2 linked regions of the Homo sapiens genome follow. The protein of the gene in region 1 purifies or fractionates together with the protein of each later gene. This does not show direct contact. Each region holds a gene or a part of one and is shown in the gene's direction. Other genes may lie near its edges. The genes, in order: PAN3 and MARF1.

Region 1 (3,816 bases):
CATAGGTGATCTTTCTAGGATTCTCTTTTTAAAAAAAACTTTTAAAGTTTTATTTATCTATTAATCTTATTCCTGACAGACAGCTCTGACGATCATTCTAGGATTTTCTTTTTCTTTTTTTCTTTTTTTTTTTTTTTTTTTTTTGAGACGGAGTTTCACTCTTGTTTACGAGGCTGGAGTGCAATCTAGTGATCTCGGCTCACCGCAACCTCTGCCTCCCGGGTTCAAGAGATTCTCCTGCCTCAGACTCCCTAGTAGCTGGGATTACAGGCAGGCACCACCACGCTCAGCTAATATTGTAGTTTTAGTAGACACGGGGTTTCTCCATGTTGGTCAGGCTGGTCTCAAACTCCTGATCTCAGGTGATCCGCCTGCCTCGGCCTCCTAGGGATTACTGGCGGGAGCCACCGCACCTGGCCGAGGATTTTCTAATTAACACACAATAGGTAGAAGGGCTGAGACTTGAAAGAGGACAGGATGTAAGCAGATGAAGATGGGAGGGGAAGGTAAGTACCCTTAAGGTGGAGGAAAAAATATTAGCAGTGGCTCAAAGGTGGGACATCTTAGGAAAATAACTGAGATATAGGGACTCGAGAGGACAGGCAGTTAATGCTGAAAAGGTATTTTAAAATTAATACTTTGTCACTTGTTAGTAAAAGTTGTCTGATTAAATAGTTGATTTATGTATTTAGATTCTGTGGTGTTTGCTTTAGCTTGTCTGGCTGAAGCCTAAGGCTCCTCTTTTCTGTGATAGGCTTCTTGGTATCTCTCAGTAATTCCTTATGGATGGAGATTTCTTCATAAGGAATCACAACCTAGGTATTACTGAGAGATACCAAGGAGTGGGAAATAATGTTGCTCAGGAATCAGGAAAAAAGGTTGTGTTGGTAATTGTATGGCTTTTTTGAGTTTTTACACTTATTGTTCATTTTTTAGACTGCTTTCTACCTTTTACTGTATTCTCATTCAGTGTGTTTTGAGACAGTATTGATCCGTTTATTTTATTTTGAAGAGATGATGTCTTGCTGTGTTGTCCAGGCTGGTTTCGAACTCCTGGGCTCTAGCAATCTCCTGCCTTGACTTCTCAAAGTACTGGGATTATAGGTGTGAGCTACCACATCTGGCCTTCATTGGTTAATTATGTGTGTGAGGCAGTTAAAATAGATGGCAATTTTTTTTTTTTTTTTTTTGAGACAGGGACCACAGGCACTGGCTACCAAGCACCTCTAATTATTTTGTATTTTTGGTAGAGATGAGGTTTCCCCATGTTGCCCAGGCCGGTCTCAAACTTCTGGGCTCAAAGCGATCTGCCTACCCTGTGAGCCACCATATATACCATAATTTAGTGTTTTTAATTTCTATGTTTGTGGGTTTTGATTGAATCATTTGACAACAAAAGAAACAAAAGATTTAATATAGAAGTACAAATTTCTGGTTTCCCTTTAAGGATGTCTCTTACCTGTGTTGGAATTAGAGCTGTTGATAGAGCATAATTCTCTCCATTTTGACTCATTCCCTAACTGGATGACTTTTATATCTAGGCATTTGAGGTTTTGACTCTAACTTTAGCACTTCACATTTGCAGAATTGTTTTTGTTTTGTTGGTGTTTCAGATAGTGTTAAAACCTTGGAGGTGGGTGCATGAGAAAACTTTATCTTTATTTTGCAGCCATTGGAAAACTGAAGCACAAAGGCTTTTTCTTAATACACTTAGTTGCAATGATGTTTCAACCTTATAAGGAAACTGCAATTTGATTTTTTGTTTTTGTTTTTGTTTTTGTTTTTTTTGAGGAGGGGGTTGGGAGTTCTTGCTGTGTTGTCTAGGTTGGACTCCAACTCCTGGGCTCAAGTGATCCTAGCACCTCAGCCTCCTGAGTAGCTGGGACTACAGGTATGCCGTACCATGTAGCTTACGTAACATTTCGTATTTCTGTTAGTCTTGGGATTTTTCTAAGGCTTAAGAGTGATTTGATTTGTATTCAACTGCATTATCGATTCTTGACATTTAATGATGTAATTCTAATATTTTCAACTGGCTAGATTTTCAAAATGGCTTTAATCTTCAAAGTGTACAATTTTTAACAGGTAAAATATGCCAATATTTGTATTTTATGTACATTATTTGAAACCCAGTAGTTTTAATTTACCAAAATACACTTTTCAATTCTCCTAATGTAGTTACTAGTGAATAAGACATGTTTCAGATAGAATCCTGGCTCTTTGACTAGCTTTGTGACTGAACGAATTTTTAACCTTTAAGCCTCAGTTTTTCTCATCTGGAAAATGGAGATGTTATGAAAATTGCATGGCATTGCCTGCACATATTGAGGTTTCAGTCTTAGTTATTGCTATTATTAAATATTAATAATCTATAGTTAACCTCTGTATTTCCTTCTTCAAATTTTTGAGGGCATACATTGAAGACTAGTAAAATAGCTACAGATTATTGAATTGTGATTGTCCAAATGGAGGAGAGCAGTGCCATGGATAACTTGAAGTTCAAATGTTAGCTTTGGAATATGTAATGTGTAGCGTGTGGCAAAGCTGTTTTTGTTTAAGCCAAGACTAGCCTTTTCATCCCACAAACCTATACTAAGTGACAGAGAAGTGAGTACTGGCGATTTGCTGTTAGGATAGCTGGCATAAGTTTAAACATTTTTATTGGAATAATATACTTAGTATATCATGAAGGCTTTATAATACTGTTCATTTCACTCATTTAATATCCTGCTTCCAAGGTGGTAAGCTCTGATTAAGGTGATAGGAACAACAACAGCAACAAAAAAACATAATTCAGCCCTAATGGAGTTTACATTCTAGTGGGGCTATAAATATCTATAAGGTAATACTTGGTTTCGATAAGTTTTTTTGTTTTTTTTTTTTTTTTTTTTTTTGATATGGAGTCTCGCTCTGTCTCCCAGGCTGGAGTGCAGTGGCGCAGTCTCGGCTCACTGCGAGCTCCGCCTCCTGGGTTCACGCCATTCCTGCCTCAGCCTCCTGAGTAGCTGGGACTACAGGCGCCCGCCACCACGCCCAGATAATTTTTTTGTATTTTTAGTAGAGACGGGGTTTCACCGTGTTAGCCAGGATGGTCTCAATCTCCTGACCTCATGATCCACCTGCCTCGGCCTCCCAAAGTGCTGGGATTACAGGCGTGAGCCACTGGGCCCGGCCGGTTTCGATAAGTTTTATGAGGAAAACTCGAGGGATAACGTAACTCCAGGTGAGATTGAGTTAACAAATAAAGCACTTTTTCCTGTAAAAGTGCATTTGATGAGATCGGGCGTGTTCAGAGTGGTATGATCATAGACTGAAAGTGCATTTGAAATGACCCTTTAAGAAGATAAATGATTATCAAAAGCAAACCAAAACATCATCTTTTTTTTTTTTTTTTTTTTTCCTCAGAGCCTCACTCTGTAGCCCAGGATGGAGTGCACTGGCGCCATCTTGGCTCACTGCAACCTCTGCTGCCCAGGTTCAAGCGGTTCTCCTGCCTCAGCTCCCAAGTAGCTGGGATTACAGGAGCCTGCCACCGCGACTGGCTAATTCTCGTATTTTTAGTAGAGATGGGGTTTCACCATCTTGGCCAGGCTGGTCTTGAACTCCTGACCTCGTGATCCACCTGCCTCAGCCTCCGAAAGCGCTGGGACTACAGGCGTGAGCCACCGCGCCTGGCCCAATATCATCCTTTTATATGCCATTTTGAGGAATTTTTCCCCCAATTTTAAATGAACTTTTTATTTTGAGATAATTATAGAATCACCCGAAATTGTAAGATACAATACGGATATCTCATGTACTCTTCTTTTATAAAGG
Region 2 (3,816 bases), on another chromosome or scaffold:
TCTAAAGTAAATGATTTTAGCATTTCTCCTTGATTCTTTCTGTAAACCTTTATTAAATCCCTATATGCCAGGTGAGTAAGTTTCAGGCTGTAACTCTAGAAAGGTGTTGGTTAATGGGAGAGTCAAGACCCCCAAGCAGGCAACTAGTCAGGGCGGTCAGGGCAGTGGGCGCGCTGAGGAGGGCCGTGTCAGGGCCCACTTCCCAAGCCTGGGGAGCCTGTTGCAAAACCTTCAAGGATGTGCCTGAGGGAAGCACGTGACAAGGAGGGGAGAGAGCATTCTGGGCAAAGGGGATGATGACATGAGCAGATGCAGGGTTGTGACAAGTGGCATGGAGTGTCGAGAGGCTAAGAGGGAGCTGAGAGCTCGGTTAGGGAGGGCGTGGCTCCTCCAGGTAAGGAGGGAGGACTGTGTTGGAGAGAGCTGGAGCCCAGGTTTGCATTTGAAAAGCACCCCAGTGGTGCTGTCCATGGTAGAGCCGAGAGAAGCAGGCATGGAGAAGGGAACTGGGCTAGGATCCTGGCCACTGCAGAGGTCTGGGTCAGTGTTAGATGGAGGGATTGAGCCAGAGTAAAAATAGTAGAATAGAGGAAGTAGGAAGGACCCAGGCAAAGCTTGCCTGGGAGCTGAGATCAGTGACCTGGCGACGGTGTGCACATGTAGGGGGCCTGGGAGCCTAGCTCCACTACTACCACTCTGCTTGGCTGAGATGGAGAGCGGCACCATCAGGGAGAGGACTTTAAGATGCTGATAATGAACTTAGTTTAAAGGGTCTGAGAGATTGCTCTTAATTCTTTTAGGTGGTTGTTCAGTTTCTGCAAAAAAATGGCAAAGAGCTCTCATGTGAGAACTACCTTAATTTATATGCCAAAGCTGGTGTTTGGAAGACAGTCTTTTTAAGAATTATAAAGGATATTTCTGAAACTGTGTCTCATGATTTTTGAACTACTCTGCTTTTTATAGGGGTATGTTTCTGTCAGCTTCTGTTGCTTTAAAAGCTAAGGAGAGAGTAGAGAAACATGCTTCTTGGCAGTAACTCAGCTCCTAAATTCTAGCCTAAGGCAGGCTCCGTAGGTCACACTCTTCCTGAATGTTAGGGCTTCTGTCCCCTCCTTTTCCGCTGCTTAACCAGTAGTATGTCTTGTGTGCAGGTGGTCTGGATAAAAGGACATGGTCATAAGAGAATTGTAGTGTTAAAAAATGACATGAAAAGTAAGTAAGCACCCATCCCCTCCCCCCTTAAAAAATCACGGTTCTCTCACTGACATTTCTCTCTGACGGGTGCTCTTTGTCCTGTAGGTCGTTTGAGTTCACTCAGTCTCTCCCCTGCCAATCATGAAAACCAGCCCTCGGAGGGCGAGCGCATCCTGGAGGTGCCCGAATCGCACACAGCCTCGGAACTCAAGCTTGGAGCTGACGGCAGTGGTAAGAGAGGAAAAGCAGAGACATAGGAGCTTGTGAAATTCTAGGAGAAACGGCTTTGGGGTCGGGGAGAGCGAGGGAAAGGACTCCAGCAAGTCATCCAATCTGCTGAAGTTACATAGCCACACATTTTTCAAAGCAGTTTTGGTATTTAGTTAGTAACAGGATAAAATTGACCTTTATCTGTTAGCATTGCATGGTTGACTGGTTAAAGTCCCTGAAGGATGTTGGCACCCCCATAATGATCATCTTACCCCAGTTCAGATGTTGAAGAAAAAAATTATTCCGACACTTATTATAATGGATATTCATGACACTTGCAACAGGGGAGAGAGAGCCAACTCCCAATACATAGCCTAGGAGCAGAGTGAGGGCTCAGTGGGTGGAAAATTACTAAGAGGATTCTTGCTATAGGCATGCAGGCCAGCCAAGGATCTAGACATCAGTGGTTGGGAATAAGGAATTCGATCAGCTGTGAAGGGTGAGGGGATTCTCACTAAACTGACTCAAGCTAAGACTCTAGAGCGAGCCGGCAAGTTCAGCAACAGACATGGAAGGCCAAGGTCAGGCCTGATCCGGAAGAGGGCTCAGGGTGCCTGACTCATGGCTGGTCAAGGCGTCTTTGTCACAGGACAGCCCTAGGCAGGATTTGATATACTAATGCATTAATATTACCCAAAATTACACTGAGTCACATAGATTTCAGATAGATCCACCTCTGTAGTAGATAGAGGCCAATTCTTGGAATGTTATAGCAGTTCTAACTTTTCTGAAGGACTTTTGAATTCATCGTTATAGGTGAGAATTTTGTCTTCATAACATGCGGCGAGATAGCACGTTACCGTCCCCTGTGCCCTTAGGATAACTGAGTTACACAGCATTTGACGTTTTATGAAGCGCCCTCCTGGGAATCATCTGCCGAAGCTGCCCCACAGCCTTCAGCAGTGCTGACCTCCGTTGTGCAGCGGAGGCTCGGAAATCTCAGGCAGTCACGTATTACAGCTCACCCAGAGTCAGCAGCTAGGAAGCCACGGAACCAGGCCCAGGGCTTCGGATTCTGAGCTTCCACTTGCTGTTAACTACGTACACCCCGTCTCAGGCTGTCCCTTCTCTTTGGAAGCTGACTGCAGGACCCTTTTCTCTGGTTGGGTCTTTTGAGGGGCCAGTGTTCCTAAGAACACGGATCTTCAGAAGAACTAGCTTATTAAGGCGTTCCATTACCAGGATCTTCCTGTTAGTGGGTTTTGGGTTTTTGTTTTTTTTTTTTTTTTTTTTTAATACCTTAAATACTTCTTGACTCTCTTATCTTTAAGGCTTAGAAGGAAAACTTCAGGTGTGAGCCCAGGGTGTGTGCTGGGGGTGGGCGTGGAGGTCCTGTGGTGTCACGGCCCTCCTTGTTTGCCCAGGGCCCAGTCACACAGAGCAGGAGCTTCTCCGCCTGACCGACGACTCCCCCGTCGACCTCCTGTGTGCGCCTGTCCCCTCGTGCCTGCCGTCCCCTCAGCTGAGACCAGACCCCGTTATCCTCCAATCTGCTGATCTCATTCAGTTTGAGGAGCGCCCTCAAGAGCCTTCTGGTGGGTGACTCCATGTTGTCATGGGGATTTTCTTCGGGGTTTAAAACAAAACCACGATGAGATACTGATATAGTAAATGACGGAGGTGGGAAGGGACTACCCCTTTTCAGGTGGAAAACACTGTGCTGATTATTCGACCTTCTTTCCCCACCTGGGTTCCTGCAGAATGGGATGCACAGCCTGAGGTTGCCTGGCGAGCATCAGGCAAGGGCGATTTGGCAGCTCTGGAGGGCTGGTGGCTCGGGGCTGTGGGCGAGTCCACAGGGGTGGGTGGGGCCTCCTGGGCTTCTGCTCTCCCAGACTTTGTGAAGGTTCAGCTGCTCTCAGGCACACCTGTCACCAGATGTACACGTCACCCATGGTGGGGGTCCAGAGGGCCCAAGGGCTTTATAAAGGGGTGAATGGAGGGAGGTGTCTGTGGCTGGAGCCCCGGACTCTGCCCAGTGATATAACAGACAGGAAGCTGAGCACACTGAGTCCCAGCCTAGTGCAGGCATTGGCACTGACCCTGTGCTCAGGGCTGACAGACACCATCACATTTAACTCTTACCACGGCTCCAGGTGAGAGCCGTGGAATAAAGGCAGCTGCTTTATTCCACAGGCTGCGTGACTAAGGCACAGCTGGTGCCGTCACTAGAGAGGCAGTGGCCCCGGGCTGCTGGGCTAGCAAGGGCAGAGCCGGCATTGGAACCCAAGCCCTCTTGTCCTGCGGTGTCTCCTGGCCTCTGGAGAGGATGGCCCATCTGCCCTGTACAGATCCCTCCCTGCTCTTCATCTGTTGGAACCCAACTCCTCCCCACTGCTGGTGCTGCTTTCC

The links.
Region 2: the proteins of PAN3 (region 1) and MARF1 purify together in Homo sapiens (affinity purification with mass spectrometry, with the first as the bait; one large-scale study listed by BioGRID). This does not show direct contact.

The regions. Positions count from the first base shown.
Region 1 is NC_000013.11:28,141,341-28,145,156, forward strand, and holds part of PAN3 (PAN2-PAN3 deadenylation complex subunit PAN3), read left to right. Parts: intron 1-3,816. UniProt on the Homo sapiens protein: Regulatory subunit of the poly(A)-nuclease (PAN) deadenylation complex, one of two cytoplasmic mRNA deadenylases involved in general and miRNA-mediated mRNA turnover.
Region 2 is NC_000016.10:15,598,037-15,601,852, reverse strand, and holds part of MARF1 (meiosis regulator and mRNA stability factor 1), read left to right. Parts: intron 1-1,151; coding exon 1,152-1,212; intron 1,213-1,299; coding exon 1,300-1,425; intron 1,426-2,828; coding exon 2,829-2,999; intron 3,000-3,816.